Regions from separate parts of the Homo sapiens genome. Here region 2 is linked to region 1. Evidence: fine-mapped expression QTL. Tissue or cell type: whole blood. Region 1 holds a variant in brackets; the other region holds the start of a gene. All regions are shown on one strand. Distances are from middle to middle.

Region 1 (2,500 bases):
GCCACCTTCACCCTGTTCCAGAATGTACCTCCTCCCTGTCCCAGAGCCCACCTCCACCATGTCCCAGAACCCACCTCTCATCTCTGTCCCAAAATCCACCTGGTCCCTGACCTAAGAATCTGCCTCTACTGTGATAGCCTAAAATCCACCTCCTCCCTGTTCCAGAACCCAGTTTGTCATGTCCCAGAACCCACTTCTTCCATGTCCCAGAGTACACCTCTCCCATGTCCCAGAATACACCTCTTCCATGTCTTAGACTCTTCTTCATCTCTGTCATTTCTCTCCTTTTCTCAACTCCAAAAGAGGAAGAATGTTTTTTCTCTTTTATTCTACTAAAATAAACCAAAACACTTGCATTGGGAAACCATAATATGCACAGATTTGCTCAAAGTGTGGATAATCAACACAGGCATCAGATTTAGAAACATTAAATGGGATGTCTGTCTTCACTGTCAGCCTAAGAGTGGTTGAGCCTGGGTGGGGTGGAGAAAATGGAGTGGGGGGTATTTGACTCATCTCACATTCAGAAAGTTGCTCAAACTTAGAATTCTCCAAAGGCAGTCATACATTCTATCACAGCATTATCCTGGCAGGTTTGAAAAAAAAAAGATATTTTTATATTGTAAATATGTGTTCCATTCCTGCACCATCTTATCTGTACTGTATTATGAATTAATATTGTCTATCAATCCTATAAGTGTCCTTGACCAGTGCAATTATATGATATCTGTAGACCACTGCTCTGCATTTGTTAGTATTTATTTGTTCAATGGCAATATTACTATACACGCAATTTTGTTAGCCCTGCTTACCATTTCTTCATCTTTTTAATTAGCTGGGAGTCTCAATAAATGGAAATGACCTGGGCCTCTGTCAACCCCTTGGAGACCCTACTAGGTGAATTCTGCAGAAAAGGATATCCATGCCTTTCAGAGGGGGATTTTGGGTGAGAGCTCCAGATAAATTGTTACTGTGCTCATGGAGAGGCGGAGAGGAGGACCAAGGGCATCTGAATTGCCTGCCTTCAGCTTGGCTGCCACCTGCATCCTCCTGCTCTCGCTGCCTTCTTTAGCGCAGTCATCCTACCCACTCCGAGACTACACAACCTATCATTACACCGTCTCATACACTCACGGGGTCCACTCAACTCCCTCCTCCTACAGATGGAAGCCCAGAGAGAAAACATGCCTTGCTCAATCAAGGTTGCAGCAAGTCAGTGGAAAATGTGCTTGCGGCCAGCCGTGGTGGCTCACATCTGTAATCCCAGCACTTTGGGAGGCCGAGGCCAGTGGATCACCTGAAGTCAGAAGTCCTAGACCATCCTGATCAACATGTTGAAACCCTGTCTCTACTAAAAGTACAAAAAGTTTTGTATTAATTTTTGTATTAATTAACTACAGGTGTGGTGGTGCACGCCTGTAGTCCCAGCTACTCTGGAGGCTGAGGCAGGAGAATTGCTTGAACCCAGGAGGCAGAGGTTGCAGTGAGCTGAGATTGCACTACTGCATTCCAGCCTGGGTAACAGAGCAAAACTCTCTGA[A/C]AGAAGAAAGAAAGAAAGAGAGAGGGAGGGAGGGAGAGAGGGAAGGAGGAAAGGAAGGAAGGAAAGAAAGAAGGGAGGGAGGGAGGGAGATGTGCTTGCTTGGTGCATTAAAGAAACTGGTATGATCACTTTGGAGAGCAGTTTGGTAGTATTCCTTAAAACAACAACAAATATGTATACACTGAAACCAACAATTTCGCTATGCTATATCTAACCTAGAGGGATTCTGGGATAGATGGAAGACTAGTTGTTTTTTCATATTACGTAATACTGTGAAGCTACTAAAAGCAGGAGCTAGATGTATATATAGCAACGTGGATAAAGCTCCTAGAAAAATAATAGGGTGAAAATTAAAAAAAAAGCAGAATTATGATTGTAGTATGATTTTATCTACATAACACGCACCTGTACACATGTGGGTATACACATGTATTTATATAAAAGCAGGGAAAGCACTAGAAGAACACACTAGTATGTTCTCCTATATAAAATGCAAAATAATTACGTTTGTAAATGCAGATAATATCCCTCAGAGGAAGCACACCAAATTCCTAAGAGTTGTAACTTCAGGGGGGACCAAGAAGGAACAAGGAATTGGGAGCAGTAGGCAAGGGAAACTCCAGCATTTTTTGTGATGTTTTAATTTAATATTTTCAAAGGTGTTTAAATACTCCGGAACAACATGCAGAAAGTTACTGGGACCGCGTCACTCTCCTATCCCTCAACCAGTTGGTTTTCTTTAGTGAAGACAGCCATTATAACAAATTTCTTATTCATCTTTTCAGGAATACGCTTTGCATTTGCAAATATTTGGAAATAGCTTAACTTTTAACTTTTAAAAAGTAAGTTTCACTTTTAACAAATAAGTATTAGTATGTTATTTGTGATATTAAAATGGTTTTTAAAGCCGGGCATGGTGGCTCACACCTGTAATCTCAGCTACTTGGGAGGCTGAGGTGG
Region 2 (2,500 bases), 58 kb before region 1:
TAATTCTAGGGGAGAGGAGCACACAAAATTAATCTAATTTCTCCCCTTGTGACGGCCCTTCGGATGCTGATCTTAAGTGCTAACTAAAGCTGTTATTTATTGAGCCTAAACAAAACTGCGAATAAAGATAATAATACTAAATAACAATAATAAGTAACATTTATTGAGTGTTTCCTCTGTATTAGGCACTCTCTATGTACTTTCTAAGGTACAGAGCAAGGTATGTGAGAATCTGGGCTGGGATAAGCAACAAGCATAATGGAAAGCTGGAAGCACTGGTTTTTGTCACAAAGACCTGGGTTTGAAATCTGGTTCCACACATTTTCTTTGTCTCTTTGAGAATCAGTGAGCTACCAGGGTCCTAGTATGCCTGCAATGTTTAACATAAAGTGTGTAGAATGATTAAGCTAATGTCAGGCACATAGCAGCTGCCTGATGATAGCAGTCACGTGTTCATGTTGCTTCCCTCGTGTCACCACCACCAATAATATCAACATCGGCATAATATTAATAGCAAACACTGGCACAGTGCTTACCACGTGCCAGAAAATGGTTTCCGTTTACTAATTCATTGAATCCTCAAAACAAACCTACGTATGTACTATTTTCATCCCCATCTCACAGATGAGAAAACTGAGGCACAGAGATTATAAATTGTCCAAGGTCACGCAGCTGTAACCGTAATAAAAGGAAAGACGACCTTTAACTGAGCGCTTACTATAATCCACATCTTTAATGAGCTCGTTACCTACGTTAACTCTTCACAATAACTCCTTAAAGGGTGTGCATTATATCTCCACTCTACAGATGGGGAGACTGTGGCTCAGAATTGCCCATGGGCGCAAAGATTCCATCAGGGCCGAGCCTGCACTCACTCAGCCTCCCAGATGCGACGAAGCACGACTCCGCTGTCAGACTCGAACTCCGCCTCGGGGCCCCGGGGCGCCGCCTCTCTCCCCCGGGGCGCCGCCTCTCTCCCCCGGGGCGCCGCCTCCCTCCGCCGCGGCCGTCGAGCCGCGGAGCGCCTCTTCCGCGGAGCCGCCGCCTGCCAGGATTCCAGCGCCGCAGCTGCGGCCGCAGCCATTGGTCTCTGACGTCAGCGGCGTGCGGCGCACTCGGCACGTCATCGCCGCGCGCCGGCTTGCCAGGAGCTGGAGGGGGAGGTAGGCGGGGCGGCGCGTGACCTAAGGCCTCTCTGCCGCGCGCGCAGGTACGGGGCAGAAGTCGCAGGTACCCAGCTGCTGCCCACATTTCTGGTCCAGAGTCCCGAACCCCGAGCACTGGGATGCCTGGCTACTCCGGTGGGTGGGCGGCGCTCGGAGCGCGGGGATACCGAGGGGCGGGCCCCCAGCTTAGAGCGTGACCCGACCCCGCCTAATCCTTAGGCGTTCGCCCACCATTTCCCAGTCCCGTAGAGCTGGGGCCAGACACCGCACAGCCCTAGTGCTGTTACCAGTCGCTGCCTGCGCCCCGGGGGCTGCGCCCAGCAGCTTCCTGGCCCTTTTCCAGCCATTAGCGTCCGTTTTCCAGCCCTGCTGCCCCACTGAGGCCCCTTCCCACAGCAGTATCACCAGCCCCAGCCCCGCGTTGTTACTATTACTTCCCAGGCTACCAGATCCTTTTCTGCTCATGTTCCGACGTCTCTTCCTACTCCAGGGCCATTATTGGTCTCTTCTGGACCTTTCAGAGATAAGAGAGGACCTCGGTAGTGTAGGGCCCAGTCCTCTGGGAACAAGGGATGGGGAGTTTTAGGCTGCTGTCCTTGGTTCCAGTAACAGAGATACCCCCTCCACAGGCACCCAAATATGCTCCATAGAATACAATGAGTGTGGTCCTGTGGAGGCCCAATCCAAAATATCTAGAGCTGAGAAGAGATAGAGATTTTACAGGCCGTCAAATATTCAATGGGGGTCGTCTCTAGAGACTTTTAACAAACTGTATTGTGTACCCACAGATTGCAGAATGGTGAGCAAACATTTGAGACCATGTTGCTAAAGCATTAAGCTTGGAGAAAGTGACAGTAAGAATTAGACAATAGTTTTGAAGTGACCAAGAGGTTGTCACATGGAAGAATTAGACCTTGTTTTGTGTTTTCCTGCAGAGCGTTATCCAGACTAGCGAGTGGGAGGCAGATGTAAAATCTGGAACGCAGATTTTAGTTTGTTGGAAGGAGAAATGTAACATAGTGAACCACGCATCTCTGGAGGGTGTAAAGCAGAGACAGCCAAGGTAATTTTTGGAAAAGAGTGCAGGAGAGTAGAGTAAACGATGCCAGGGTTCCTTCCGACTCTGAAATTCCGTGATACACTGAGCTGTCTTTCTCTTGTGGAAGTTTGAAAGCCATTTGATAAAGTTCTCTTCATTTTTTAGAAATTTGCCCTGCTCTGGAATTCTGCATGTTCAGGTTACTTTTGGACTGTCAAGATGACAGTTCCTTAATTTGGGTTCCATTATTACCACAGCAACTGGTTTATTTGTATAGCTGTCCACACCTAGAGCA

Evidence for each region. PIP is the estimated chance that this variant, and not a neighbour inherited with it, causes the effect.
Region 2: HPS4 starts here. The variant in region 1 is fine-mapped to the expression of HPS4 in whole blood (TOPMed, PIP above 0.99).

The regions. Positions count from the first base shown.
Region 1 is chr22:26,424,808-26,427,307 of GRCh38, reverse strand. No RefSeq gene overlaps it. Among named protein-coding and RNA genes, the nearest start is that of ASPHD2, 3.2 kb to the left of the region's middle. The variant A/C (reference allele first, on the strand shown) is at 1,541.
Region 2 is chr22:26,482,475-26,484,974 of GRCh38, reverse strand. It overlaps HPS4 (HPS4 biogenesis of lysosomal organelles complex 3 subunit 2), which reads left to right and starts at 1,192. Exons shown (of 14, transcript NM_022081.6): 1 at 1,192-1,301. It overlaps SRRD (SRR1 domain containing), which reads right to left and starts at 1,098. Exons shown (of 7, transcript NM_001013694.3): 1 at 876-1,098. The coding sequence starts at 1,084. RefSeq lists a silencer at 915-1,004 and an enhancer at 1,025-1,144.